Homo sapiens: one gene and its partner. The main gene of each other region encodes a partner of the protein of the gene in region 2 in a complex. Links are inferred from orthologs where the notes say so. Each region holds a gene or a part of one and is shown on either strand. Other genes may lie near its edges.

What was found.
Region 1: the proteins of ADAT2 (region 2) and ADAT3 are in contact, whole or in part, in a crystal structure (PDB 9HMM), measured with the Mus musculus proteins. The link is inferred for Homo sapiens from one-to-one orthologs. Residues at the interface, in NP_080024.3 of Mus musculus: Val62, Asn63, Lys66, Asn67, Ala68, Thr69, His71, Met74, Ile77, Leu81, His85, Pro91, Cys107, Ile108, Met109, Ala112, Ala113, Leu116, Met117, Arg130, Phe131, Val137, Leu138, Ile140, Asp144, Leu145, Pro146, Asn147, Thr148; in NP_001094076.1 of Mus musculus: Val217, Ala218, Pro220, Leu221, His223, Ile229, Asp230, Ala233, Gln236, Gly237, Glu270, Ser272, Pro274, Val276, Val290, Met291, Met294, Ala295, His298, Ala299, Pro311, Asp312, Leu318, Phe319, Val321, Arg324, Asp326, Leu327, Asn328, Pro349.

Annotation. Positions count from the first base shown.
Region 1 is NC_000019.10:1,892,282-1,908,471, reverse strand, and holds the start of ADAT3 (probable inactive tRNA-specific adenosine deaminase-like protein 3), read right to left. Parts: upstream 3,074-16,190; 5' UTR 3,033-3,073; intron 1-3,032.
Region 2 is NC_000006.12:143,430,170-143,445,660, forward strand, and holds part of ADAT2 (tRNA-specific adenosine deaminase 2), read right to left. Parts: intron 14,801-15,491; coding exon of another isoform or gene 14,759-14,800; exon of another isoform or gene 11,280-14,758; coding exon of another isoform or gene 11,269-11,279; exon of another isoform or gene 11,224-11,268; intron 10,972-11,223; exon of another isoform or gene 10,884-10,971; intron 8,526-10,883; coding exon 8,421-8,525; coding exon of another isoform or gene 8,417-8,420; intron 3,813-8,416; coding exon 3,662-3,812; intron 2,443-3,661; coding exon 2,336-2,442; intron 1-2,335. UniProt on the Homo sapiens protein: Probably participates in deamination of adenosine-34 to inosine in many tRNAs.

The DNA of each region.
Region 1 (16,190 bases), on a different chromosome or scaffold from region 2:
CTCTGGATCATTTCGCAGCCGCGCAGCTGTGGGTGCTACTCCTCGACATGCACTGCCTGGTCCACGCCTCAGCCGCCGGGGCGCCCCACAGATGGGGGACCAGCAGCCAGTGGAACTCCAGGCCAGTGGCCTTGGAGGTCACGCTGAAGCGGCCCCAGCGCTGCCCGAAGCTCACGCGTTCAACAAAGCACAGAACCGGAGATGCAGTGGGAGCCGGGAGCAGGAAGCGCGGAGGCAGCGCCAGGTGCTGCCGCTGCCCGAGGCCCCGTGCCAGGTGGGGCCCATAGCAGCCGACTCGCTGGGCCCTCCCAAAACGCACACCACGCGCGACCAGGACCGAGAGGCCCGCACGGCCCTGCTAGGCCACAAACACTCCACTGTCTCCAGGGTAAAAGACAAACACAGCCTCGCTTGTCCCTCCAAGAGTACAACCTCTGTCTGATGAAAAACAAACGACCCAGAGAGGAGGCAGCTGCCGGGACACTGCAGGCTGGGCCCGCCGCGCCCTTGGAGGGCAGGTCAAAATCCCGGAACAGGCACAGTGTTCAGGCTGATTGACTGTCCCAGGCCAGGGCGGCCTCAACTGCCAGAGCACCTCCTACCTACCTGCTATGGCCCGGGGGGACGACTCACTCCCACAGCGACTGCCCCCCAACAGCAGGGGGCCACCTGACCCTCCCTCTACCACACCCACCCAGAAGGCAGGCGACCGACCACTGGGACCCCTCAGGAGGGCAGGCAGCCCAGGTCCCAGGTCCCAGCAGAACACGGCCGCCAGCCTGGGCTGGGAACCGGCATAGCTCCAGGCAGGTGAGTCAGACCCTGCGTGGTGACAACCCTGGTGAACAGGAGGCTGGGAGGCCTTTATCTAAGCCCACAGATGAGGAGGCCAAGGTCCGCGCCGGGACCTGGGTATGTCCACCCAGAAAACACACCCAGTCCCCAACCTGCCCTAGAGGCGTTCAGCCCAGCGCGGTCAATTCCTGACTGCGAGAACTCAGGCACCAGTCCTGACTCCTCCAAGCCTCGGCTTCCACCCCTGTGAAATGGGAATTCCTGCTCTACCTTTTTTTTTTTTTTAAGGCAGGGCTGTCAGGTACATAAGAGAAAATGGGGGGATGGAGGGGCCTGACCATCTTCAGCAGAATCCAGGAGGGCTCCTCGGAGGCAGTGACCCACAGCCCAGCCTGGAAGGCTGGGGAAGTAGGGGAGAGAACTCGGAGAGGGAACAGCTAATGCTCAGTTCCAGGGCACACCAATAGTCTGCGTGGGGGCTTTTTTTTTTTTGGGACAGTCTCACTCTGTCCCCCAGGCTGGAGGGCAGTGGCGCGATCCTGGCTCACTGCAACCTCTGCCTCCCTGGTTCAAGCAATTCTCCTGCCTTAGCCTCCCAAGCAGCTGGGACAACAGATGTGCACCACTATGCCTGGCTAATTTTTTATATTTTTAGTAGAGGTGGGATTTCACCATATTGGTCAGGCTGCTCTCGAACTCCTGACCTTGTGATATACCTGCCTAGGCCCCCCAAAGTGCTGGGATTACAGGCGTGAGCCACTGCGCCCAGCCTGGGGCTTGTTTCTTTACACACACACACACACACACACAATTTTTTTTTTTTTTTGAGACGGAGTCTCACTCTGTCGCCCAGGCTGGAGTGCAGTGGCACGATCCTGGCTCACTGCAAGCTCTGCCTCCTGAGTTCACACCATTTTCCTGCCTCAGCCTCCTTTGGGAGTAGCCGGGACCACAGGCGTCCACCACCATGCCTGGCTTTTTTTTATTTTTAGTAGAGACAGGGTTTCACCGTGTTAGCCAGGATGGTCTTGATCTCCTGATCTCGTGATCCACCCGCCTTGGCCTCCCAAAGTGCTAGGATTACAGGCGTGAGCCACCACGGCCGGCGCTACACGTATGTATTTTATTTATTTATTTAGAGACAGGGTCTCGCTCTGTTGCCCAGGCTGGAATGCAGTAGTGCCATCACAGTTCACTGCAGCCTCAACCTCCGGGGCTCAAGCAATCCTCCTGCCTCAGCCTCCCAAGTAGCTGGGACCACAGACATGTGTCACCATGCCTGGCTTATTAAAAAAAAATCTTTTTTTCTTTTTTTTGGAGAGTGAGTCTTGCTAGCTTGCTCAGCCTGGAGTACAATGGTGCCATCTTGGCTCACTGCAACCTCCACCTCCCAAGTCCAAGCGATTCTCCTGCCTTGGCCTCCCCAGTAGCTGGTTTTACAGGCGCGTGACACCACGCCCAGCTAATTTTTGTATTTTTGGCAGAGATGGAGTTTCACCATGTTAGACAGGCTGGTCTCGAACTCCGGACCTCAGGTGATCCACTCGCCTTGGCCTCCCAAAGTGCTGGGGTTATAGGGTGAGGAACTGCACCCAGCCGTCCTTGTTTCCACGGAGTCGATCCTCTGTTTCTGGCCACCCTACAAGGAGGCCTTCTCTGCAAGACAGCGGGGAACCTCGGTCCTCGGGGTAGTGTGTGGGAGATAACTGGGGGCCTGTGATACAAAAACCTGAAAAACTCATACTCTAGGTAACGATGAGGAACGATGGTCAATTCTGGGGATGTACCAAGGCCTAGGGGAATCTCCACATAAAGGCGAATCAGAGCTGGGGAGGAAGGACGCGAAGGCTACGGAAACTCGCGAGAGCGCGGTTCAGAGGCAGGGGACTGCGGGACATGACCTGAGGAAGGGCCACCGGAAGCAGCTGGAGGATACGGGGTCTCCCGCACCGACCATAAGGGCGCACACGCGCAGAAAGGCGCTAGGCCCGGGGGAGCGCGGTCCTGAGGCTTCCCCCAGGCCAGCGCCGCGCGCGCGCGCGCACGCGCATTCGCGCCGCCTCCCCGCGTCGCCCACCGGCCCGCCCGAGACGCGCGCGAGGCTGGCCTGGGCCCCCCGTTTTCTCCCCACAAACGGCCGGCGCCCCTCACCGCCGAGACCCCCCATGTCAGCCCCTACTCCCCCTCTGGGGAAGTCTGAGCCTGGAGAACCCGAGACCTCGGGGCCGCGCGCTTACCTGAGGGATCCGGGCGCGAGCGCAGCGCTTCGCCAAGTCTTAGCAACCGGCCCGGCCCAACCCACCTCACCCCGCCTCGTCTCCGCCTGGAGCCGCGGAGCACGACGGGAGCGTAGTTCCAGGGGCGGGATCTTCGCCAGGCCAAGGTGGGGCAAGGACTACAATTGCTAGTAGGCACTGCGCGCCGCCGCCTCGCCCCGCCCCGCTCCGGCACTGCGCTCACATGACCTCCGGGCGGCGGGAGGGGAGGAGAGGCGGGGCCGCTGCGCTGGGCGAGCGCTGAGTTTGCAGGTTCGAATCCCATCAAGCGGCCAGGGAAAACTCGGAACCCGGGGGATCTTTGGAAGGTTAGCAGAGTGGGAAGGATGAGGCAGAGGGGGTATATGACACCCGTCCCCTGAGTCCGGGATGGGGCCAGGTTCCAGTTCTGCCTGTTACTGCACTCCGGCGTGGGCCGCCCTCAGGTTTGAGTTTTCTCACCAGTAACGTAGGTGAAGAAGACCTCTTGCCTCTCCTGGGCCAAACAAGCACATTTTTTTTTTTTTTTTTGAGACGTAGCCTCAGTCTGTCACCCAGGCTGGAGTGCAGTGCTAGGCTCACTGCAACCTCCACCTCCTGGGTTCAAGCGATTTCTGGCTAGTTTTTGTACTTTTAGTAGAGAAGGGGTTTCACCAAAACATGCATATTTTATGAGCAATTTGTTACTCCTTCCAGTTGGACAGGTTTAACCAAGTGGTTCTCAACGGGAGGGAATTTGTCATCCCCTCCCCCAACAGCTTGACAGTGCCTGGCTGTAACCAGCTCAGGCTCCGATGCCAGAGTCTTGACAAACCAGTAAGGAGGAAAAAGTGCAGTGAAAGGAAGGTGACTTCCTTTCAGAGTTCGCAGCAGGGAGGCAGCTGGTTTAGGCCTCCAGAAACCCCTTCAAACTTGAGGCTGGGGTGAGGGGCTAAAAAAGGGGAACTGGGAATGGTGGGTGTGCAGGGGAGGTGCTGATTATAAGCTCTGTGTGTTCATGAATTTTGGTGGCTTAAAAGCGCAGGCTGGCCTCATCCTAATAAGGGCCGGGTTGCAGACCACCTTGAGGAAATCTCTGGGATTTTGCAGGTGGGTCTCCGTGCTTGGCCTGTCTCCAGATTAGCTCTAAAACGTTCTTTCTTTTTTCTTTTTTTTCGAGACAGTCTCGCTCTTGTCACCGAGGCTGGAGTGCAGCAGCACGATCTCAGCTCACCGCAACCTCCACCTCCCAGATTCAAGTGATTCTCCTGCCTCAGCCTCCCGAGTAGCTGGGATTACAGGCACACGCCACCACACCTGGCTAATTTTGTATTTTTAATAGAGATGGGGTTTCTCCATGTTGGTCAGGCTGGTCTCAAACTCCTGACTTCAGGTGATCTGCCCGCCTCGGCCTCCCAAAGTGCTGAGATTACAGGCGTGAGCCACCGTGCCCAGCCTGTTCCTGGAACTTTTAGGTAATCACATAATTAGATGCATACAGTTAGGTAAACCTGCAGAGTGTGAGGGAGTTTATGGTGAGAAAGGGGAGGACGTGTTTCAAAGAAAGTGCATTTCAAGGTCGGATGCGGTGGCTCATGCCTGTACTCCCAGCACTTTGAGAGGCCAAGGTGGGTGGATCACCTGAGGTCAGGGGTTCGAGACCAGCCTGGCCAACATGGCGAAACCCCATCTCCACTAAAAATACAAAAATTAGCCAGGCATGGTGGCAGGGGCCTTTAATCCCAGCTGCTGGGAAGGCTGAGGCAGGAGAATCACTTGAACCCGGGAGACGAAGGTTGCGATGAGCTGAGATCGCACCATTGCACTCTGTTGCCTGGGCGACAGAGTGAGACTCCATCTCAAAAAAAAAAAAAAAAAAAAAAAAAAAAAAAAACAGCATTCCAGGAAACTATTTCGCTCTCAGTTGCTTTCTTTTTTCCTTTTCTGAATAAAAACTCAGACTGCTGTGAGTTTCACTTTTTCTTTTTTTAGCTTAAATACACATCTCTCCATCCCTGGATGCCTCATGCAAACTAGCCAAGAGCCCCTGTTTTGCTGATTTGTTTTAAAAAAAAAAAAGACAGCCTTTATTTGGTAAGTCATTAAATCCAAAGCCCAGATTCTCTGCATCTAAAAAAATGAATCTAGGCCAGGCATGGTGGCTCGTGCCTGTAATTCCAGCACTTTGGGAGGCTGACACATGAGGTTTGCCTGAGGCCAGGAGTTTGAGACATGCTGCCATCTCTGCAAAAAAAAAAAAAAAAAGAATTGCTGGGTCCGGAGGGGCACTGAGTAAGTGGGACAGCTGGGACAGCTACTCAGGAGGCCGAGGTGGGAGGATCACTGGAGTCCAGAAGGTCAAGGCTGAAGTGAGCTATGATTGCGCCACTGCGCTCCAGCTGGCTAATTTTTGTATTTTTTAGTACACCATGTTGGCCAGGCTGGTCTCAAACTCCTGACCTCTGGTGATCTACCTGCCTCAGCCTCCCAAAATGCTGGGATAGTGCGAGCCACCATGCCTGGCCTTCTTTCGGGTTTTTGTTTTGCTTTGGGCTTTAAGCTAGTTTCAGTCATGATTTCAGCCTCTACTGATGGGACCCCTTTTTTAATTGACATTGTTCTTTATCCAGAACTTTTCTTTTTCTTTCTTTTTTTTTTTTTTTTTTTTTTGAGAAGGAGTCTCACTCTGTCGCCCAGGCTGGAGTGCAGTGGCGCGATCTCAGCTCACTGCAAGCTCCACCTCCCTGCAAGCTCCACCTCCCGGATTCACGCCATTCTCCTGCCTCAGCCTCCCGAGTAGCTGGGACTACAGGCGCCCACCACCACGCCCCGCAAATTTTTTTGTATTTTTAGTAGAGACGGGGGTTTCACCATGTTCGCCAGGATGGTCTCGATCTGTTGACCTCGTGATCCGCCCGCCTCGGCCTCCCAAAGTGCTGGGATTACAGGCATGAGCCACCGCGCCCGGCCTTTATCCAGAACTTTTCAAAAGTAATGTGGCCCACAGCCGGTGTGCTGGCTCACACCTGTAATCCCAGTGTAATCCCAGGACTTTGGGAGGCCGAGGCGGAGGGATTGCTTGAGTCTAGGAATTTTGAAATTGCCCTGGGCAACACAGCGAGACCTTGTCTCTTTCTTTAAAAAAAAAAAAACAACATAGCTGGGAATGGTGGCGCCTGTAGTCTCAGCTACATGCCGGGAGGCTGCGGCAGAAGGATGGCTTGAGCCCAGGAGGCAGAGGTTGCAGTGAGCTGAGATCACACCAATGCCACTTCACTCCAGCCTGGGTGACAGCCAGACCGTCTCAAAAAACAAACGGAACGTGACCCTCCCGACTCACAGTAATGCGTCAGGGTCCGGCATCGAAATGTTGCAAAATCATGGAGTCGGTTCCCCAATTGTGAGCTTAGTGGCCGCAGAGAATCAGCCAGAAGCCTAAGTCAGACACTGGCGGGCTGGGTGGCCCCAAGTGACAGGCAGTCAAGAAATGACCAGGACCAAGCTCGGGGGCTCACGCCTGTAATCCCAGCACTTTGAGAGTCCAAGGTGGAAGGATCGCTTGAGCCCAGGAGTTTGAGACCAGCCTGGGCAACATAGTGAGACCTTGTCTCTACACAAAAATTTTAAATTACCCAGGTGTGGTGTGTGCCTGTGGTCCCAGCTACTTGGGAGGCTGAGGTGGCAGGATCACTTGAACCCAAGAGGTCAAGACTGCAGTGGGCTTTGATCAGCATTACTGCACTCCAGCCTGGGCAACAGAGGGAGATCCTGTCTTTAAAAAAATAGGCCTGGGCGGGGCACGGTGGCTCACGCCTGTAATCCCAGCACTTTGGGAGGCCAAGGTGGGCGGATCACGAGGTCAGGAGATCGAGACCATCCTGGCTAACATGGTGAAACCCCGTCTCTACTAAAAATAAAAAAGCCAGGCGTGGTGGCGGGCGCCTGAAGTCCCAGCTACTCGAGAGGCTGAGGCAGAAGAATGGCGTGAACCCAGGAGGTGGAGCTTGCAGTGAGCTGAGATTGCGCCACTGCACACCAGCCTGGGTGACAGATGGAGACTGTGTCTAAAAAAAAAAAAGGAAAAAAAAAATAGGCCAGGCATGGTGGCTCACAGCTGTAATCCCAGCGCTTTGGGAGGCCGAGGTGGGTGGATCACAAGGTCAGGAGTCTGAGACCAGCCTGACCAACATGGTGAAACCCCGTCTCTACTAAATATACAAGAATTAGCCGGATGTGGTGGCGCACGCCTGTAATCCCAGCTACTCAGGAGGCTGAGGCAGGAGAATAGCTTGAACCCGGGAGGTGGAGGTTGCGGTGAGCTGAGATCACGCCACTGCACTCCAGCCTGTGTGACAGAGCGAGACTCTAAAAAAATAAATAAAACAAAACAAAACAAAATAAAATAAAAATAAGACTGGGAGTGGTGGCTCACGCCTGTAATCCCAGCACTTTGGGAGGCCGAGGCGGGTGGACCACTTCAGGCCAGGGGTTCTAGTTGTGGGATATAATGGGGTTTCTCTTCAAATAATCTGATCAATCATTTATTCTTTAATTCATAGTACCCCTCCTTTCCCTTCTTTTTCTTTTTCCTTTTTGCCTTTGTTAAATGCCTAGACACGCCTCAATACCAAGCGTTATCAGCATCAGCTTACATTCCTTTCCTTATTTTAAAAAAAGACTAACTTTCTAGCTCATCACAGACACCCCCTTCCCCATTCTCTCCACTTTCTTTTTCTTTCTTTTTTTTTTTTGAGACAGAGTCTCGCTCTGTTGCCCAGGCTGGAGTGCAGTGGCACGATTTCCGCTCACTGCAAGCTCCGCCTCCCGGATTCACGCCATTCTCCTGCCTCAGCCTCCCGAGTAGCTGGGACTACAGGCGCCCGCCACCACGCCCGGCTAATTTTTTGTATTTTTAGTAGAGACGGGGTTTCTCTGTGTTAGCCAGGATGGTCTCGATCTCCTGACCTCGTGATCCGCCCTCCTCGGTCTCCCAAAGTGCTGGGATTACAGGCGCGAGCCACCGCGCCCGGCCTCCCCTTTCTTTTACATACCCACCCTATCTAAAAAAAATCAAATGTTTAGCCAACCAAAGTTAGTTTAGATTGTGTGACCCGACCCCAGCCAATAGGAAAAAAGTACAGAGGCCGAGGTGGGTGGATCATGAGGTCAGGAGATTGAGACCATCCTGGCTAACACGCTGAAACCCCATCTCTACTAAAAAAAATAAAAAGATTAGCCGGGCGTGGTGGCGGGCGCCTGTAGTTCCAGCTACTCGGGAGGCTGAGGCAGGAGAATGGCGTGAACCCGGGAGGCGGAGCTTGCACTGAGCGGAGATGGCGCCACTGCACTCCAGCCTGGGTGACAGAGCGAGACTCCGTCGCAGAAAAAAAAAAAAAAAAAGCCAGCACAGTGGCTCACGCCTGTAATGCCAACACTTCGGAAGGCTGAGGCGGGTGGATCACCTGAGGTCAAGAGTTCGAGACCAACATGACTAACATGGTGAAACCCCGTCTCTACTAGAAATACGAAAAATTAGCCAGGTGTGGTGGCGCATGCCTGTAGTCCCAGCTACTCAGGAGGCTGAGGCAGGAGAATCGCTTGAACCCAGGAGGCAGAGGTTGCAGTGAGCCAAGATTGCACCATTGCACTCCAGCCTGGGCAACAAGAGGGAAACTCCGTCTCAAAAACAAAAACAAAAACAAAAAATCAAAGTCCTAAGATTATAGGCATGAGCCACAGGGCCTGGCTAAGAAACAATGTTTTTAATTATGAAAACAAATATTTTAGGCAGGGCGTGGTGGCTCATGTCTGTAATCCCAGCACTTTGGGAGGCCGAGGCAGGCGGATCATGAGATCAGTTTGAGACCAGCCTGGCCAACATGGAAAAACCCTGTCTCTACTAAAAATACAAAATTAGCCGGGCGTGGTGGCGGGCACCTGTAGTCCCAGCTACTCGGGAGGCTGAGGCAGGAGAATCACTTGAACCTGGGAGGCAGAGGATGCAGTGAGCTGAGATTGTGCCACTGTACTCCAGCCTGGGCAACAAGAGCGAAACTCTGTCTCAAAAACAAAAAAGAAATAGTATTAGACAAAGTGTGACGAAAACTGAAAAAAATTAAGAAAGTTAAAAAAACAAAACAAAACAAAACAAAACAGGAATGCGTCCAAAAAAGGAGAGGAGTTCCCCGCAAGACCCTCTGTCTGTTTCCACATGGCTGAGGCCAAAATCAGTATCAACTTCCCTGTCACCACCTTGTTCAGCTTGTTTCTTTGCGTCAGCATCCCATTAACTTTCTGATTTGTTTGTTTGTTTGTTTTGAGACGGACTCTCGCTCTGTCACCCAGGCTGGAGTGCAGTGGCATAATCTTGGCTCAGTGCAACCTCCGCCTCCCAGGTTCAAGCGATTCTCCTGCCTCAGCCTCCTGAGTAGCTGGGACTGCAGGTGCCCGCCACCACGCCCGGCTAATTGTTTTATAGTTTTAGTAGAGATGGGGTTTCACCACATTAGCCAGGATGGTCTTGATCTCCTGACCTAGCGATCCGCCCGCCTCGGCCTCCCAAAGTGCTGGAATTACAGGCGTGAGCCACCACGCCTGGCTATACATATATTTTTTCGAGACGGAGTCTCGCTCTGTCTCCCAGGCTGGAGTGCAGTGGCACGATCTCAGCTCACTGCTACCTGTGCTTCCCGGGTTCAAGCGATTCTCATGCCTCAGCCTCCCAAGTAGCTGGGATTACAGATGCCTGCCACCACGCCTAGCTAACTTTTGTATTTTTAGTATAGACGGGGTTTCACCATGTTAGCCAGGATGGTCTCGGTCTCACCTCATGATCCACCCGCCTGGCCTCCCAAATTGTTGGAATTACAGGCGTGAGCCACAGCGCCCGGCCAAGGATGTCTCATTTATTTCACCTCCACCAGGACAGGACGTTTTGGTGTTTTTTGTTTTGTTTTTGAGATGGAGTCTCACTCTGTCCCCCAGGCTGGAGTGCAGTGACATCTCGGTTCACTGCAACCTTCGCCTCCCGGGTTCAAGCGATTCTTGTGCCTCAGCCTCCTGAGTAGTTGCAATTACAGGTGCCTGCCACCACACCTGGCTAATTTTTGGATTTTTAGTAGAGATGGGAGTTCGCTGTGATGGCCAGGCTGGTCTGGAACTCCTGATCTCAGGTGATCCTCCCGCCTCAGCCACCTAAAGTGCTAGGATTACAGGCATGAGCCACCGTGCCTGGCCTTGGTGTTTTTGTTTTGTTTTTTGTTTTTTTTTTTTTTTTTGAGACAAGATCTGCCTCTGTCACCCAGGCTGGAGTGCAGTTGTGCAGTCATAGCTCACTGTGGCCTTTGCCACCCGGGCTCAAGCGATCCTCCCACCTCAGCCTCCCATGTAGCTGGGACCACAGATGTGTTCCGTCACGCCCAGCTAATTTTTGTTGTGGTTGAAATTTTTGTAGAGTCGAGGTCTTGCTGCCCTGCTAGGGCTGGACTTTCATTCTCTGCGGTATCCCTATTGCCCAGCATGCACGTGGGCAGCCCTTGTTGCTGTTATCCTGGCAAGGCAAGTGGGATCGCCCCCGCCTCTCCTGGGAGCCCTGCACCAGCCTCTCGGACCCTCCCAAAATCAAGCGGACACGGTTGCCACCTACTGACCAAAGGCAGCTGCACCCCGGTCACGGGGCTTCCGGCCGGATCTAAGCACGTGTTTACACCCTTTCCCAGAAGGTCCACACCCACCACACTCGGCTCCGGTGGGCGGGAGACAGTGCTGGTAACAGAGAACAATCACACTCCCTCATCAGCAGTGCGGAAGTTTAAAAGCTCTGTGCTAACACTGGGGTCAAAAATGGAGTGTCACCCGGGTGCGGTGGCTCACGCCTGTAATCCCAGCACTTTGGGAGGCCGAGGCAGGTGGATCACGAGGTCAGGAGATCGAGACCACCCTGGCTAACACGGTGAAACCCCGTCTCTACTAAATATACAAAAAATTAGCCGGGTGTGGTGGTGGGCGCCTGTAATCCAGCTATCCGGGGGGCTGAGGCAGGAGAATGGCGTGAACCCTGAGATCACGCCAATGCATTCCAGCCTGGGTGACAGTGCCAGACTCCGTCTCAAAAAAAAAATTTTTTTTTTTTTTTTGCAGAGACAGAGGTCTCTCTTAGTTGCCCAGGCTGGTCTTTTTTTTTTTTTTTTTTTTTTTTTTTTTTTTTGAGATGGAGTCTCGCTCTGTCGCCTAGGAGTGCAGTGGCATGATCTTGGCTCACTGCAAGCTCCGCCTCCTGCGTTCACGCCATTCTCCTGCCTCAGCTTCCCGACACCACCCCCGGCTATTTTTTTTTTATTTTTTTGAGACAGAGTCTCGCTCTGTGGTCCAGGCTGGAGTGCAGAGGCGTGATCTCAGCTCACTGCAAGCTCCACCTCCCGGGTTCACGCCATTCTCCTGCCTCAGCCTCCCGAGTACCTGGGACTACAGGCGCCCACCACCACGCCCGGCTAATTTTTTGTATTTTTAGTAGAGACGGGGTTTCACCGTATTAGCCAGGATGGTTTTGATCTCCTAACCTCGTGATTCGCCCACCTCGGCCTCCCAAAGTGCTGGGATTACAGGCGTGTGCCACCGCGCCCAGCCCCGGGTTGGTCTTGAACTTGTAAGGCTCAAGTGATCCTCCCACTCTGCCTGCCAAACTGCTGGGATTATAGGCGTGACCTAAGGCACTTGGCGTGGAGATAGGAAGTCTCTCTCTGTGGCCCAGGCTGGAGTGCAGTGGGAGCTGATCACGGCTCACCACAGCCTCAAACTCCTGGGCTCAGGGGATCCTCCCACATTGGGCTCCGGAGTAGCTCAGACCACAGGCATGTGCCCCGACACCTGGCTAACCAAATATTTTTTTTTTTTTTTGTAGAGATGGGGTCTTGCTGTGTTGCCCACGCTAGTCTCAAACTCCTGGGCACCAGTGATCCTCCTGCCTTGGCCTCTCAAAGTATTTGGATTACAAGCTTGAGCCACTGTGCTTGGCCCCCGCCGAGACAGGACTTTTTAAAGAGATTATTAGGTTCAAATGACGTCCTGAGGGTGCGCCCAAATCCAATCTGACTTGTTTCTCTTTAAGAGGCAATTACAGCCAGGCGCGGTGGCTCACACCTGTAATCCCAGCACTTTGGGAGGCCGAGGTGGGCGGATAACCTGAGGTCAGGAGTTTGAGATCAGCCTGGCCACCATGGTGAAATCCTGTCTCTACTAAAAATACAAAAATTAGCCAGGTGTGGTTGGCGGGCACCTGTAATCCCAGCTACTTGGGAGGCTGAGGCAGAAGAATCGCTTGAACCTGGGAGGCGGAGGTTGCAGTGAGCCGAGATTGTGCCTCTGCACCCCAGCCTGGGCGAGGGAGCAAGACTTCATCTCAAAAAAAAAAAAAAAGAAATAGACCAGGCGCGGTGGCTCACGCCTGTAATCCCAGCACTTTGGGAGGCCAAGGCGGGTGGATCACTTGAGGTCAGGAGTTGAGACCAGACTGGCCAATATGGTGAAACCCTGTATCTACTAAAAATACAAAAATTAGCCAGGCTTGGTGGCGGGCGCCTGTAATCCCAGCTACTCAGAAGGCTGTGGCAGAAGAGTCGCGTGATCCCAGGCGGTGGAGGTTGCAGTGAGCCGAGATCACGCCACTGCACTCCAGCCTGGGTGACAAAGTGAGACTCTATCTCAAAAGAAAAAGAAAATAAGGAAATAAATAAATAACTTAAATAACCCAATTCCTGGTGGGCTGGTGGGAGCAGAGGGTGCTGGGTCTGGTGTGTCGAGGGGACGGGGCTGGGTGCCTGCAGGGAAGGTCGCTGGGAGGGTCCCCGGCCCTGGCCCTGCTCCCTCCCCGCACCTCTGACCGCGTGGTTGGGTGATGCTATTTTAAGATGCCCCCGCCAACTTCCTTCCTTCTCATGTCAGGAACCCACTTCCTGAGCGGGTTCCACTCTCTCCCCTCTGGGAGGGGTATCCCTCCGCAGCGCTTAACGCCCCTGACCCTGGAAGGAGGCCTCCCGGTCCTTTCCCCAAAAGAAGCCTGGCTACAGAATCTTTGAGGCCAAGCTCAGAATGACAATACAGGGCCCCTTGTTTAAAAATGTTTAGAATTTTTTTTTTTCTAAGACAGTTTTTTTGCTCTTGTTGCCCAGTCGGAATACAATGGTGCTATCTCGAGTCACGACAACCTCTGCCTCCTGGGTTCAAGCGATTCTCCTGCCTCAGCCTCCCAAGTAGCTGCGATTACAGGCATGTGCCTCCACGCCCGGCTGATTTTGTGTTTTTAGTAGAGACGGGGTTTCTCCATGTTGGTCAGGCTGGTCTTGAACTCCCGACTTCAGGTGATCCGCCCGCCTCGGCCTCCCAAAGTGCTGGGATTACAAGCGTGAGCCACCGAGCCCGGCCTTTTTTTTTTTTTTTTTTTTTTTTTTTTTTTTAAAGAGACGGAGTCTTGCTCTCTCGCCCAGGCTGGAGTGTAGTGACATGATCTCAGCTTACTGCAACCTCCGCCTCCTGAGTTCAAGCAATTCTCCTGCCTCAGGTTCCCAAGTAGCTGGGTCTACAGGCATGCGCCACCACGCCCAGCTAATTTTTGTTTTTTCAGTAGAGACAAGGTTTCACCATGTTGGTCAGGCTGGTCTCGAACTCCTGACCTCAGCTGATCCGCCCGCCTGGGCCTCCCAAAGTGATGGGATTACAGGAGTGAGCCACCGCACCCAGCCAATTTTTAGGAATTTTGAGACAGCAACCACAGAGCATTATATCATGCCTAGATTCCTCTGAGTGTGGGTCCCCAGCGGACCCCTGAGGCCTCTGCCTGCGAAGCTGGCGCTAACCAAACAGCTCGTCTAACTCCGTGGTTTTATGAACATTGATTTATTTGGTTGTGGTAAAATACGCATAATATAAAGTTGACCATCTTAACCCTTTTATTTTATTTATTTATTTATTTTTTTGAGACAGTCTCGCTCTGTCGCCCAGGCTGGAGTGCAGTGGCGCAAGCTCCGCTCACTGCAAACTCCGCCTTACCGGTTCACGCCATTCTCCTGCCTCAGCCTCCCGAGTAGCTGGGACTACAGGCGCCCACCACCACGCCCGGCTAATTTTTTGTATTTTTAGTAGAGACGGGGTTTCACCGTGTTAGCCAGGATGGTCTCGATCTCCTGACCTCGTGATCCACCCGCCTCGGCCTCCCAAAGTGCTGGGATTACAGGCGTGAGCCACCGCGCCCGGCCTCTTAACCATTTTAAGTGCACAGTTCAGCCGTATTAAACTCATTCACACGGTTGTGCGACCATCACCTCCAGAACTTTCTGATCTTTGCAAACTGAAACTTGGCCCCATGAAACGCTCACTCCCCATTCCCCTCCCCAGCTCCTGGCGGCCTCCATCCTACTTTGTGTCTCTGTGAATCTGAGGACTCGAGGGACCTCCTAGGAGTGGATCACACAAGACGTGTCCTTTTGTGTCTGGCGCCTCCCGCTGAGTGTAACGTCCTCAAAGTGCATCCGCGCGTTGTGGCCTGAGTCAGAGCCTCGCTCCTTTTCTTTTTTTCTTTTTTCTTTTTTTATATTATATTATATATTTTTTTTTGAGACGGAGTCTCGCTCTGTCTCCCAGGCTGGAGTGTGGTGGCGCGATATCGGTTCACTGCAAGCTCCGCCTCCCGGGTTCACACCATTCTCCTGCCTCAGCCTCCCCAGTAGGTGGGACTACAGGCGCCCGCCACCACGCCTGGCTAATTTTTTGTATTTTTGGTAGAGATGGGGTTTCACCGTGTTAGCCAGGATGGTCTCAATCTCCTGACCTCGTGATCCACCTGCCTCGGTCTCCCAAAGTGCTGGGATTACAAGTGTGAGCCACCATGCCCGGCCTCGCTCCTTTTCATGGCTGCCTCCTATTCCAGCGTGTGTATAGGCCATGCTGTGTTCACCCAGTCATCTGTCCATAGCCACTGGGACTGTTGCTACCTTGTGGCTGTTGGGAATCAAGGTACTACTGACATAGGTGTGCAAATATCTATGGAAATCCCTGTTTTCCATTATTTTTTTGAGACGGAGTCTCGTTCTGTCGCCCAGGCTAGAGTGCATTGGCACAATCTCGGCTCACTGCAACCTCCGCCTCCCGGGTTCAGGCGATTATCCTGCCTCAGCCTCCTGAGCAGCTGGGTCTACAGGTGCGCACCACCACGCCCAGCTAGTTTTTGTATTTTTAGTAGAGATGGGGTTTTACGATCTTGACCAGGATGGTCTCGAACTCTTGACCTCGTGATCTGCCCGCCTCGGCCTCTCAAAGTGCTGGAAGTACAGGTATGAGCCACCGCGCCCAGTCCCATTCTTGTAAGTATATGCTGAAAAGTATAAATATTAGTATTTAATCACAAAGCTTATTTAGAAATCTAGTTTTAGCCTGGGAGGCAGAGCTTGCTGTGAGCCGAGCTCGTGCCACTGCACTCCAGCCTGGGCGACAGAGCGAGACTCTGTCTCAAAAAAAAAAAAAAAAAGAGAAATCTAGTTTTAGGCCAGGTGCTGTGGCTCACGCCTGTCATCTCAGCACTTTGGGAGGCCAAGAGAGCCACATCACTGGAGGTCAGGAGTTCTAGACCAGCCTGCCCAACATGGTGAAACCCTGTCTCTACTAAAAATACAAAAATTATGGCTGGGCGCGGTGGCTCACGCCTGTAATCCTAGCACTTTGGGAGGCCGAGGCGGGTGGATCACAAGGTCGGAGTTCGAGACCATCCTGGCCAACATGGTGAAACCCTGTCTCTATTAAAAATACAAAAATTAGCTGGGCGTGGTGGCGGGCACCTGTAATCCCAGCTACTCGGGAGGCTGAGGCAGGAGAATTGCTTGGACTCGGGAGGCGGAGTTTGCAGTAAACTAAGATTACATCACTGCACTCCAGCCTGGATGACAGAGTGAGACTCCTACTCAAAAAAAAAAAAAAAAAAAGTCACCCAGTACCTTGTTCTCCCACATCATCTATCTCGGTCCCTCTGTGGGGGGTTTTCTCAGGGGGAGACCCAGGATTGCTTTCTGAACACAGCAGCATGGACCTTCTCATGGGACCTCCTCTTCCAGGAATCCTCCCTGCAGGGTCCTATCCATCAGTGTGAAACGTCTCATGTGCCATTATTGTTGCAGC
Region 2 (15,491 bases):
CACAGCTGCCCCCTGCTTCCTGCTGTGTTAAGTGCTGGAGCTCCCCAGAGGTCCCCCTCCACTCCACTCGCACACTCAGAGCCCTCTCCTCTTACGTGGGATGAGAGCAGTGGTTCTCAACCATTGCTGCTCAGGAGAACCAGTTGGAACTCTCTGGAAACACAGCACTGTTGGCCCCCTGCCTTCTGATTCAGATGGTCTGGGGCAGGGACTGAGCAGAGTCAGGCACAGAAGCCTCCAGGTGATTCTAACGGGCAGTCCGGGATGAGAACTGCTGAGTTACAGGCCTCGAAGGAAACTGCACCGCCCTAACACACCAATATAATATATTATTTACATTTTCAAGTATCCATTATAGCAACAAATTTGTGGTGTTAATAAAAAGCAAACATTCATAATAATTTTTTTTTTTGAGACAGTCTCACTCTGTCGCCCAGGCTGGAGTGCAGTGGCGCAATCTCGGCTCACTCACTGCGAGCTCTGCCTCCCGGGTTCAGGCCATTCTCCTGCCTCGGCCTCCCAAGTAGCTGGGATCACAGGCGCCCGCCACCATGCCCGGCTAATTTTTTGTATTTTTAGTAGAGACGGGGTTTCACCATGTTAGCCAGGATGGTCTCGATCTCCTGACCTCATGATCTGCCCGCCTTGGCCTCCCAAAGTGCTGGGATTACAGGCATGAGCCACTGCACCCAGCCATAAAACAAAAATTTTAAAAAACAGAGCAGGTGTTATAATTAATCACCATCTTCTTTGAAAAGAATAGTTCTGTAGGCCTCTAGAAATTTTAATGCTGCTTATAATACAGCATGAAAAGAATCTGCAATTCTGCAGTAAGAAACAGTATCCCACCTCCCAATCACCTGCTGCCTCCTAAGCCCAGACGAATTAAAAAAAAAGAATACCCAGCATTCAGAGCCTGGGCCACCACTGTTCTCCTTAGAATCTAAAAGCACCTTTAAAAAAACCATAATTTGGCATTCAGCCTGGAGATATGGCTGCAAGCCACAGGCATTGATTTGCAGCTGAGCCGATGTGGCTAGGTATATACACTGCAAATGAACTTGTTTTGGTTCTGCTGCATCGACTACAAAGATGTGTGAGAAAGGACTGTGTTTGTGCCCTCATGTCACTGACATGTTGGAGAGAAATATTCCACCCATGTATGACATCAAAAGACTCATCTTTGTTCTGCCCAGAAACTGAAAAATTATTTAGATCATTCTCATAAAGGAAATATGGAGTCAGCAATTCATTTGCAAAGAGTTATGTAAGCAAAATTTGAGCTACTAACAGAAGTGATTGGAAAAATCAAATCACTTTCTAAATGTCTTTAATGATCAAACCAATTGTATCCTTTACTCTCCATCATTGCATTACAATTTCTTTTCTGATGTAATGTTAAACAGCATTTATTCTCAAATGCACAGAAGTTGATAGGAAAGCTAATGTTGAGCTAGAAAACTCAAGAACGTTTTAAAAACTCGTTCTCAGTGAGACTCAGCCAAATTTAGTCCTTCATAGGTCCTTAAAGTATTCTAGGAACCCCTGAGGTTTTTGAAGTGAACTGCCCAGCCATATCCAGCATCTGTTAAAGCTTTTTCTTTTTAAAGCACAATACTTTTACATTAACCTTACATCTTGGAGAGAAAAACAATCAAACCAATTAATGAAAGTAGGGGTATAGTCACAGGCCAAACTCTGAAATACAAATTCCTTTTGTTCATAGTCTGACCCATAAAAACTTTGGGAGAAGTGGCAAGATTAAACGGAAAGGAGAATTTCTAGGAGACTAAAGACATGGATTCTTAAGTCTGGGGGAAATTTCAACATTAAAAAGACACACAAAAAAAGACATGAAAATACAGTGATTGCTAGATACTAAAATAAGGATGTGGCAATCAAGCAAAATGATTAAATTTGTACAAAAATATTGTGTGTGCTGTAAATAGTCTCTAGCGTCACTGACACAGGCCAAGCATCACCAAACTTGGTAGAGCATAGAGCTGGTAACGTTCATTGAATAAAAACTCCAACAGCGAGAGTGTCTTCAGGCATACCTAACGGTGTTGGTGAAGAGTGTTCGGAGTCAGCTGCGAAGGGTGGACTCTCCTTCAGGAGGGAGTCTGTTAATGAAGAGAGGTAGGCACTCATCTAGAAACTCTTCCCTGTCATCTTATACTGAGGCATAAATGAACTCCACCAGAGGCCCTGAGATCAAAGATGTCTGATTCTATCATCGTTTCTTCGTATACTGGCCACACACTAGTTATTCACAAGCCCATAAAGAGATGAAAATAATTAGCAAGAAAGAAAAAGCATAAGCAGTTTGTATTACCTGAAATGGTCTCCCAGTGTTTGGTAGGTCAGCAGAGGCAATATTTAGAACAGAGCCACAACCACCAAATCGTTCATTCTGACAGCCATATACAACCAGCGGGATTTATAAGACAGAATTAAGGTCCTGCATAGAATGTACATTTCAAGTATGTATCGTGACAAAATCAGAGTAGGTTTATACCAGCCATCCTGGAGAGGAACGCTCATGCTACTCTTCAAACCAGTGAAGCTTAGGATTCGTCTTATAAACCATACAATCCAGCTACACAGAAGAAAAGGGGTTAAAGTATTGAGAAATTGACATTTAACAACTGCAAACAGAATGAAAACTGAGTATGTGTTTGCTTAAAGTTCACAGTTCAGGGCTCTCTCTGCTCTTTCCTAAATCACTTTTTCAGAATCATTAGGGAGTCAGAACCAGAAAGGATGCAGAAATTTAATCCAGGGATTTTCACCTTTTAGAAATAAAAGATTCTTCCCTGTTCTTGCCCCAAATAAAATATAACCTGTGCCCTAATACAAAATAGACTAAAGCTTAGCCACTCTGTAAGGCAGGATGAGGAGAGAATTCTAAGTTGCCTATAACAACCCTTTTATAGAGACTGTACATTTTATCATACCCAAAAACCTCTGTATTATTTTTAAAGTGTTAAAATTATCCATCCGTACATAGTAAAATAAGTACATAAAAAATAAGGAACTAAAAAGCTGAGTTTTTCAATTTTCAAATAATTTTTTAAAAAGATCTTTAGAAGTCCCTACAGAGTCTCTGCACTATTTAAGTTGCTTAATCCATGCAAGACAATCCAAAGAGCTGTAACTTTACTCATTTTCCATTTACAATCAGAATATCATAAAGGATTTCTTACTTCTTATTTACTTTTTACTGATAATGTTTGATACATTAGTATTCATGGCAAACAAACCAACCAGATAAACAGAGAAAAAAAAATTTAAACCACTCATAATCCATTATCCAAAGGCAAAACTTAGCTGCATATTCTTTAGGACTTTTCCTTTGCAAACTGTTTTATAATCCACTTCAACTTAATTTATGATTTACCTTTATATAACTGTTTAAGACAGTTCTAATATTTTCTTTCTCTAGATTATTTGTTTAATCATTCCATGTTTATTGATATGAAAAGAAATAGGTCATTTTACTATTTAAAAAGCTTTTCTTTTTTTTGGCTAAGACACACTATATTTTACAAGGTGTTTCCTAAGTCTGTGTTTTCATATTTTGGAAAACAGGCTACGTGTTTGGCCACTCTCTTGTTCACACGAATGGTACGATACATTAACTCATGAAGTCAAAGGATACTCATCAGGCGGAGAGCAGCTGCACACATAATGCACGGCTCCACAGTGACATACAACACAGTGTGTTCAAATACTTCAGAGGGACTCTTGCCACTTTGACGACACCAATCGAGGACCTGATCGATGGCCACCATTTCTGCATGTCGAGTAGCCTGAAAAGAGAAAGGGGCTTGCACTGATGCTGTTTGCTTCATGTGACTACTATTTTACAAATATACAAAAACTAAGTACAAAATATGCGCCTATCCTTTCTGCCAATATTTTAATGAATACAGTTTCAAGACACCCTTAGCAGTGGACAACGTATTCCCCAATTCAAGTACCATAACCTCACTTGCGAAAGATATCTAATCAGAGATGCCACAGGAATCATGCTGTATTTTTAGTTAAGTACCTAAGTACCTTAGGGAAAACTCTTTCAATTAAAATGCCATGGAGAAGGTAAGTCTAAAAAACAAAGAAAAAAAGATAAAGTCTATGGTTTCTGAATATTTCAGGGGAAGCAAAATTTTCATAAGCTTGTGCTCTAGTTTCAAATATATTTTCAAGGCTGTCACTGACCTCACTCCAAGCAAATCTACATTAAGTTCACTGGAATGTCATCTCTTACACTTTTGGGGAATGAGGTTTTATATACTGGAAGACTCTAGAGAAGTAGAGATTTGGTATTGGTTTCAGACACTTCATGGGAAGCAGTAGAGGATAGGAGAAATCACATAGCATGTGGAAGTGACTCCATTTAAATTTGAATTTTGACAGTGACATTACCAATTATGTGGACTTACGCAAGTAACTTAACTTCTGTAAGTCTAGGATTCCCCATATGTAAAATGGTATACACTGGTATCTACACTTATAAACCTTATAAATCTGAATTACATGAAGCATGGTGCCACATAATACTACACATGTACTCTGCTAGCTCTTGTCTCCTTTTCTTTCTCCCTTACTAAAATAGCTTAAAGTGAATCATAGATTCTATATGGAATAATTATTTATAATATTCATGACAATAGTATTTATCAATAATTTACACTGAGTATTAACCATGCACAAGCCACTGGGCTAAATAAATTCTGTGTAGGATAAAAAGTCTCTGTCCTCAACAAGCATAAAATCTGGTAGGGCTCATTTACCTGTGAGATAGGGCAGGGTATGAAAAGTGCTAGCACAGTGGCCCAAGATGCCATGGAAGCTAGAGGCAGATGGGAGCAGAGCTGGCCAAGGGGCTACATGGGTGAATCACAGAACTAATTACCAGAGATGGAAGGTACTTTACAGAAGAGGTTCCCAAACCTGGCTGCACACCAAAACTAAGTGGAGAGTTTAAAAAAAAAAAAAAAAAAAAGGTTTCCCCAACTTAGGTGCTTTCAAAAAATCAGATTTAGAATTATGGAATCAAATCTCCCTACAGCTCTCAATAAACAATTGCTGAACTCAATCATCTCAGTCAACTCTCTTACTACTAAAGAAAAAGAAGCTAAGCAAAGCTGGCATGTGTTAATCACATACAGCTGGGAGAGGAGGTGGTGGTGGCGACTGGGTAGTGGTGGTGGTATCAGATCCAAAAGTAGAACTCAGGTCTTCTCATTTGGGGTCAAGAGTCTTTCTATGCTGTAGTTATAGAGTAATCTTCTTTATGACACGGAATAACAAAATAAACCCAGGTTAATTTCAGCATATAGAAGAAACCCCGGTCACTGGATGGGGTTAGATGGGTATTGTTAGGACAGTCAAAGTTCTCATCTTAAGACATCATACACAAAATGCAAATTGGAAAATTTGACCACGATTTAAAATACAGAATTCTACTCCTAAATAAGTATCTATACATTCATTAATTGCTGTATTATGTTTATTACTTATCTCATGTTTTAATATCCTCTTAATAACTGCTTTGTGATTCAACATGAATGTAATTAAAACATTTTTAAAAATTCTTCAAAACATCTTTTTCAAAAAGAATTTTTGTATGTTTTACAGTATTTTAAATTGATATTTAAAATTATGTCATTTTTCAACAAACATCAGCTAATTGTTTGCAGAGGTATGTGTACATGCTTCTGTTTTTTTCTAACTGAAAAGGTAACGGCTAATTTAAAAATGTTAATTCTATATGGGAATGACTACCCTGGCAGTTATAATACTTCTCAGTGTTATAATGGTAATTATTTTAACATTGTTTGAAATTATTGCACATGTGAGTTAAAATTAAAAGACTGTATATATTTGTATATTGTTACATGATTTATATGAAAGAAAACTGTCTGGAAGAATATGGCAAAATTTTAATAGTTCTGCATAGAGAAATGAGATAGAACTGCTTCTACTTTCTGTATTTGAAATTTTAAAAAGGTATTTCAAAATGAGCATTTAAACAACAAAGAAGGCCCTGACAGTGGCTGAACTCCCCCAGCAGATGTCTGATGCTAAGAACATGATGGCTGCCTATGACCCCCAGTATGGCCTCTATCTAACAGAGGCTGCCATTTTCAGGGGCTGGATGTCCATGAGGGAGGTAGAGGAGAAAATGCTTCATGTCCAAACCAAGAACAGCAGCTACTTTGCTGACTGGATCCCCTACAATGGGAAAACAGCTTTCTGGGACATCCCATCCGCAGGACTAAAAACGTCCACCACTTTCATCAGTAACAACACGGCCATCCAGGAGCTGCTCAGAGACGTCTCAGAGCAGTTCACAGCCATGTTCAGGTGCAAGGCCTTCCTGCACTGGTACATGGGCGAGGGCAAGAATGAGATGGAATTCACTGGGGCCGAGAGCAACATGAATGACCTGGTATCAGAGTACCAACAGTATCAGGATGCCACTGTTGAGGAGGAGGGAGAGTCTGAGGAGTGGACTGAGGAAATGGGGGCGTAGAGCCTTCTGTTACTGGGTTAAGGGCGGGGGTGGTATGAATTCTTCATTTGCCCACAATGTGTTCTGTGATAGTCATGTCTGTGTGGGCACTTGCTGTTCTTGCTGTGTGTTCACCTCTATTAAAGCATTTCCATAGTAAAAAAAATAAATAAATAAATAAAAATTAAAAGTATGACTTACATATATTCATGCTTCTCACTTATTACAGGGTAAATTTAAAACTGATTCATTAAAAAGTTGTCTTTTTCAAGAATTCAAAGGACAAAGAATTTTGTGAAATACTATATTTTTATTTAAGTGTCTTTTTTCTTTCTAATTCTACACTTCGATCTACTATTTTTCATAAGCAAATTGATAAAAAAGTTTTTTTGGGGGGCTGACATATTAACTACAGATTTTCTATGCAGTGAACATGGTTATATATAAATCTGAATTGTCCAACTACTTTGTCGGAACAGTTCCTATTGATTGGAACTGCTAGGGCGAAGTATATGCAAAATCTACATTTTGAGTAAATTTCCTATAATCAATGTAAGCTTTCCCAGTGTTTGAACGTTTCCCATTCCCTAAAACTGTTCAAACATTAGATATCAGTATTTTTAATCACTGATAATCTAATGTTACAAAGAAATTGCTTTTTTCTTCTGTTAAAGTTAAGTTAGATCATCTTCATGTAGCCTTATTGGTTGTTATTTCATTTTCCTCTGTTCCTTTTATTTTCACTTCCCTTGTAATATTAGTCTCTCTGTTACTGATTTCTAAGAACTCATTTCTGATTAAGGATGTGAACATTTTGTCAAGCATTGCAAATGAAATACCATGTTTATTCCAGTTTATTTTACTGTGGTGTTTTATTTTTTTGGTTGTACAGAAGTTACGTATTAAAATATAATCCTGTTCTATTTTATGGCTAAAAATAAATAAGTAAATAAATGATTTGTGAATCTGGATTCCTATTTTACATGTGTTTTGCTAAATATCAGTTTTCTTTTCAATAGATGTGATTGATAGATGAACTAGTTCCCACAGCCCTGGTATCAACACCAGCTTATTCTCTGGCTCCCAAAATCATATGACAAGATAAAAGTCTGTGTGAATGGCATTACAGGTATAAGTGATCTTTGAGTCCACCTAGGAATTTTTGTAATCATAAAATTTGGTAGTTTACTTATACTTCCCAAGTATACTTATCATGACACACTATTGTGATACCATGTTTAAGAAGCATTGCCTTGAACCATGAACTTCCCAACCTAACCACAATAAAAGTCATACAAGCTATTAAAATGTACATGCTACATGTAGCTACAGAGGCAGCTGGTGTTGAAGACCCTATTTTGTTGAATTATCTGATAAAGGAATAGCTTCCTTTATATAATCCTCATACCTCCCTCCAAAGCTATACATTGAGGATACTTTTTTAACTTACTAGGATGAAAATATTATTTAAAGGTACTAAAAAAGGAATGTATTATGAGTTAAATTGACCTATTTTATAAAATGAAAATTTCATATATTAGATTGGCTTAAAGTAGAGACAGACTTGTTTCTTCCATGCTGACATTCTGATGAAATAAAATCCCCTCTTGGGTTTCACTCAAGCATTAGAGTAAAACTCTATGAAACAGAAAATTATTCACTAAGATTTTATGGCTTCATTAAATTGTTCTGAATTTTCCACAATAAAAAAAATCAACATGTATCACTTTCAAAATCAGGAAGAAAATGATACTGAAAAAGAGAGACGTTAAGAAAAGCTACCCACCACTGGCAGCTACGGGACTATATTCAGTCTCACCTTCACACCAACTGTGGTAAATTCTCTCCAGTCCACCCATCACTACTGTATGTTTGCAATTATACTGCTCAACTCACATACATTTTTGGTTTGGTTAACTTCATTTCTCCCCTTCCCTACAACTTCATTGTTGTAGACCATAAGACAGCCAACAGGAACTTCAGTATTTTCGAGGGCTTCTTTGGCCTGAAACACAAAGTGGAAAATGTAAGACGTAATACTCCATACTTGAAGAGAGTATAGGAGAGAAAGAGATGCAGCATGAACAAGATACACATGTACAAAGACTGAAACAAAGAAGTGCAGCCTTCCCTTTTCTGGAATATAGTTCCATTACGGTATTTAGTGCCCGTGTTCTGTGTTGTGTCCATGTTAAGGGAGACTCAAAAAAAATCCCCTTGATAGGTCCAGAGCCCCTGATGTCTTCTCATTGGAAATAGACGTGATCAAAGGAGACTGTGACTGACCACTGTTCTTGAAGTGCCAGGGTCTATGTGTCTTTTCAGAGATAGAATACATATTTGCAAAAAGGTAGGGGACTAAATAACACTTATAGATCCTTTATTACAATCCTTTCCTCACTGAAATTCCTTTGCTTCTCTAAAAATTATAGAAATTATCCTCTAGAGTCCCAATAGCTAAAGGTAACCAGACTGGATGTCACCCTGTCCCACAATTTCTACTCTATGTGAGACAATAAGAGTTTAGAAGTACTCTATGTAAAATGGCACAATCATTATGAAAAACGTTTTGGAAATTTCTTTAAAAAGTAAACACACACACAGTCTATAACAAAATTCCACTCCTAAGTATTTAAAAGAAGGGAATATGTGTCTACAAAAAAAAAAAAAAAAAGAAGAAGAAAGAAAGTTTGAAAAAGAACCAAAACCTTGAAAAAGAATGTTAATAGCCAAAACCTGAAACTGCACAGGTGGCCATCAACAAGAAAATGGATAAACAAACTGTGTCCTATTCATATAATGGAATACTAGTCGGCAATAAAAAGGAACTACTGATACTGTGACAACATGGATGAGCCTCATAGACATGCTAAGTAAAGGAAGTCACACACAAAAGCACACATACTATATGATTCCTTTTGCACAAAGTACCAGAATAGATAAAACTAAACTACAATGACAGAAACTGGAACAGTGGTTGCTTCATGGAGGAGGATGTGCAGATTGATTGGGGAGGTACACAAAAAAATTTTCTGAGGTGGTGAAAACTTTCTGGATCTTGATAAAGACATGGATTACAGAGATGTTTGCATTATTCAAAACAGATTGAAGGATACATTTACAACCTGTGCATCTCACTGTATATAAAGTATACCTCAACTGAAAAAAATCAATGAGAAAAACAAGTTTAGGAACACTTCCATGACTACCATCCCAGGAATGGCAAACCAATTATTATATTCTCAAAGTTCCCTTTATCACAGGCCATTCGTTTTTCTTCTTGTCCCATGATAGCAGCTCTGGGCCCTAGGAAAATTAACTCTACCTTCAGGCGGAGAGCTTAAGCAGGCAGGTTATGCCTCAGTATAACCTGATACTGCCTCTGAGAGTCAGAATAAGGGAAGAGTACAACCCTTGGACTAGTGTACATTCATTCCCATCTCAATGCAGTCAAAAGAATATAACTGCTGTACAGCTGTTTCCAGAAAGGCAAGGTATTCCTTACTGTGGCAGCCCTGAAGAGACTTTGGAAGACTTGATTCTCACTTAAGTGCAGGTACTTACACACATCATAGGGCATATAAAGTGCAAAGTTGAAGGCATTGTTAAAACAGTGTCTTCTGTCTCCTGCACCAGTCTCTTACTCCCAGTTCTACTTTATTTAACTAGTGACAACTTCCTATTATAAGGCATACAGGATTTCCTCAGTTATTCCCACCATGTTCAACGGACACTTATTCTTCATTTGGCCATTAGAGGAAAAAGGAGACGCCCACAGCAGGAGCAAACTGGGCCTCTCTTTTCTCCATCTGGTTGGTGGGTCAGAGATGGGGCATGGAGAGATGTGAGAAGACAGTATCTGATGCAGTAAGACTGCATTCAGGACTATTTTATGAACTATCCACAGGCCGGTTGTGTCCCAGTTCTGTGACAGTGGTTAAAGCATGTCCAGTTTATGCAAGTTCAAAAGGCTTGAAGAGTCCCGAGGTTTGGTTAATATAGACAAATGCACCATAGGCTACTATAGAGAAGAAAGCCAGGAAGAAGACGGACAGTTAAGGAGAATGGAAATGCTAACTACCAGTGTAGCTATGGCAATTATTATACTAAGAATTTTATTTAAGGTAAGTGTAGAATTACACAGAGATCAAGGTACACAGAAGAGACAAATCATTTATTCATGCAAAAAATATTTGTTGAGGATCTTGAGATGGAGAGATTATCCCAAATTCAGGTGGGTCCTGAAGGCACCCACAGAAGGCAAGAGGCGAAGTGATAACGGAAGGAGAGAGAGAGAGATTTGAAAATGCTGCACTGCTGGCTTTGAAGATGGAGGGATGGGTCATAAATGTCACTTCAGTACCTGGAAAAGGCAGGCTTCCAGAAGTTATTCGGCCCTGCCAAAACTTTGATTGGGGCTCACTAAAATTTCAGACTTCTGGCCTCCAGAACTATAAGAGAATAAACTTGTGTTGTTTTTAGCCACCATGTTTGTGATAATTTGTTACAGCAGCCATAGGAAACTAATACATGCAGCAAAGAGGAAGAAAAACATGCTAAAATAGGAAAAAACTTACAAACCACATCTCTGGCAACACTCTAGTATCTAGACTATATAAAGGACTCTTAAAACTCCACAATAAAATAATAATCCCATTAGAAAAAGACTGTTTTCATCTATTTGTGCTGCGATAAAGGAATACCTGAGGCTGGGTAGTTTATAAAGAGAAGAAGTTGATTTGGCTCACAGTTCTCCAGACTGTACAAGAAGTATGGTATCAGCATCTGCTTCCAGTGAGGGCCTCAGGAAGCTTCCACTCATGGCAGAAGGCAATGGGAGCAGGCATCACATGGTAAGAGAAGAAGAAAGAAAGGAGGGGATGGTATATTCTCATGATAATAATATAGTGAGAACTTGCCACTATAAAAATGATTTATGAGGTATCCTCCCCATGATCCAAACTTCCCACCAGGCCCTGCTACTAATACCAGGGATTCAATTTCAACATGAAATTTGGAGGCGACAAATATCCAAACTATATGAGAAGGCAAAAGACAGACATTTCACCAAAGAAGATAACACACATAGCAAATAAGTACACGAAAAGATGTTTTCACATCATTAGCCGGTAGAGAAATGTCAACTAAAACCACAATGAGGTATCACTACACACCCATCAGCATGACTAAAGTGAAACGTAAAAACAACATCAAATGCTGGCAAGGCTGTGGAGAAGTGATATTACTCATATACTGCTGGTCGGAATATAAAATGGTACAGCCACACTGGAAAATAGTTTGGCAGTTTCTTAAAAAGCTAAACATGCATTTAACTTATGACCCAACAATTCCACTCTTGGGCATTTATCCCAGAGAAATGAAAACCTATGCTCACACAATGTATGTCTGTGTGCACAAATATTCATAACAGCTTTATTTGTAATAGCCAAAAACTGGAAACAACTCAAATGCCCTTCAGTGGGTGAACTGCTAAACAAACTATGGTACACCTGTACCATGGGACACAATGCAGCAATAACAAGGAATGAACTATCGATAATCTCAACAACTTGGATGGATCTCATGGGAATCATGCTGAATGGAGAAAGCCAAGCCAAATGGTTACAGATTCATGTACATAGCATTTTTGAATTATAAAATTATAGACAGAGAACAGATTAGAAGCTGCAGCTATAAAGAGGTAGCACAAGGGAGCCATGTGGTAGTGAAACAGTTCCAGTGGTGGTTATACAAAGCTAAACATGACAAAATTGCATAGGCACGCATACACACACACACACACACACACACACACACACACGTACAAATAAAACTGATGACATCTTAATAAGCTCTGCAGTTTTCCCAATGCATTTTTCCTGGTTTTGATACTGAACTATAGCTATGCAAGATGTTACCACTGAAGGACACTAGACACTTGGGTCCTCCCAGTATATTATTATTGTAATTTCTTGTGAACTTATAATTATTTCAAAATGAAAGTTAAAAAATAAGTACAGGTAAACAAAAAGGATTTTGCAATGGGAATTAAAAAGAGATGTTTAGTGAGTTTAGAGAAATATTTGGTGTTACGGACAATCCCAGAAAAACACTAGGCCAAGAAGGAAGGGTGGTCAAGTGTGTCTAATTCAGCAAGGTGGTGGCAATTTAGGTGGAATGGTGGAGATGAAAACCAGTAGCTTGAACAGTGACTTATCTAAGAGGTTAAATTTTTAACTCCAGCTATACTTTCCCCAACAAACCTCTTAAGAGAGGTAATGTTTTGTCTGCATCTCGAGTATTCTGGTTCTGAGAGCTTGAACATAAGAGCTTACAATTTATTGAAAGCTTACTTTGATCCAGGACTAATTTAAGCATTTTATAAGTATTAATTCATTTCATTTACAAGCCTATAATGATCTTCCCCATTTTACAGATGAGGAAACTGAGGCACAGGGAGATTTTTTTTTATACATGTATATATCTCTCACTAGCGCATGTGAGAGAGCTGGGACTAGGGCATAGACAACCTGGCTCCACTTATTCATTTGTTCAACAAACATTTGTGGAGCACCTACCAAGGGCCAGATTCCAGGGCTCTCTGCCACTGTTCTGCCTCTAACTTCTACTTTAGTAACAACAGACACTTCACCGATCAGCTGCTTTATCAGGGTTTGAGTTTAGAGTGAATCAAGGGACCAAATGAGAGAGAACAGTTGGCAAGAGAGTGAGACATGGAAATTTTAAGGATAAAAAAAATGGCAAGAGGAGTTCAAGGCTGTAGTGAGCTATGATCATGCCACTACACTCCAGCCTGGGTAACACAGCAAGACCCCATCTCTAAAAAAAGTAAAAAATAGGCTGAGCACAGTGGCCCATGCCTGTAATCCCAGCACTTTAGGAGGCCAAGGCAGGTGGATCATCTTAGGTCAGGAGTTTGAGACCAGCCTGGCCAATATTGTGAAACCCCATCTCTACTAAAAATACAAAAATTAGCTGGGCATGGTGATGGGTGCCTGTAATCCTAGCTACTTGGGAGGCTGAGGCATGAGAATCGCTTGAACCCAGGAGGCGGAGGTTGCAGTGAGCCCAGATTGTGCCATTGCATTCCAGCCTGGGCGACAAAGTGAAACTCTGTCTTAAAAAAAAAAAAAGTTAAAAAAAAAAACAAAAACGGCAAGAGAATAAACAAATGGAGGCCATGTGATCAGGATTTTCTGTAAAAATATCTCCTGAAGAGCTCTACATTGGCTATGTGGGCCATCTCAAACCTGCAGAAGAGAATGCAGGGCCGAGTGGAAAGGACGTGAGTGGGATGGGAGATGAGATTCCATGTTGCCTGCAAGTTCTGTCTTGTTCACCTGGAGATAGCACCCACGCCACCATGTTACTGGGTTTGTGCCTTCCATTCCTTCCTTTGGATTTTTCTCTTTTTCCGTCTAGCAAATTTATTTCATTTCACTCCTCTCAATATTATCTTCATGTTTATTTTGAGTAACACAGTTTTTTTTCCTGAAATGCCTTCCACTGCTGTCCGAAACAGAGAGCAAATATGAGCGATCGGAATATTTTAAAAGGACAAATAACGTCATTGTTGAGGAATGGCCGAGCCTGCCATGCTGAGGATGAGTGGGTAAGCAACTGGAATGGTAGGCAGGGGAGGGGGCGGTGAGAATAACACAAAGCCCCATGGAAGTGAGTTGAGGGGAACTCCTTTACAACAATTAACATGTAGATTTGCTTCACTAACAAGTTCACAATAGATTTAATTAAGCTGGAAATCAATTTCACCCCATACCCATATCATACTTTCAAACTCTCCCAACAACTCTACTGTCAAGTCTGATCACTTCTTCACAAATGCAAAAAAGCTCAGGCAAAATGGGTCTGAAATTTGTGCAGGTAGCTTTGAATTTAACCTTTCTTGCCTTTTTTAGGGGGAAAGACCAAGATCAGATACTATTTAAAAATGGCTACAAGGTTTTTCATAAAGTAACAAATGATCAACCTTCAAAATTAAAGAATAAAATCTCTGTTCTTCCCAGCCCAAACACTGGTCTCTATTTTGTCCTTGAATATAATTTCTTTTTTTTCTCTAGTCAGGGCCTGCCCAGATACAGATAATGAAAGCACCTAGATGGAAGAGACTTCGTAGTTTATTATTTTCTCCAAAGACATTACTACTATAAACTGCTTTCTAGTGATGTCATGATAAAAGGGGGAGAGATGGAAACAGACCTTGTTTGCACACAGTTTGATGAGTCCTTAAAGAAATATTTCCTATAAAGACAAAAAATTAGGGGGAACAAACAAGTTAGCCAGAACTCTCAGGTAGAACATCATCCTGTCCAAAAGGCTAAACTATATAACTGTTTCTGCTAATTACTCTCTTCTGAGTGATTACTCTCTGAGTAATTAGCAGAAACAGTTATATAGTTTAACTTTGGGGATTTAAAAAGTGATAATGTTTTTATTCCATCAACTTTAAATTCTTCAATATGGCACTGAAGGTCTCCCAACTATCACCCACCCTCCCATTGGCCAACCGAACCAACCTAACTTTTCATTATTCATTTAGGTTATTAACCTTTTCAGAGCAGAAATCCCCTTTTAGACACTGATGAAAGTTATGGACTGTCTCACTTGAAAAAGGCACACGCACATAATATTTTATATATAGTTTCAGCGTTCATAGATCCCCCTAAACCTGAGCCTGAGGTCAGGGAGCCCTGTTCTAGATAGATAGATAGATCTCCTTCTAACCCAAAACAAAGTTCTTGATTTCTTTGGACATGACAGTATCTTTGCTTGGATCAACCTTTCCTTTCCACCAGCCCACATCCTTTTGGTCCCTTAAAATTTAGAAGGAATTCTATCATTTATCTCAACGGACGTGTTGAAGGACCTTGCCAGCTGTTATCTGACAGCACTTTATATCTGTCTCTTGTGGTCTTTGGACATGTTACTTACC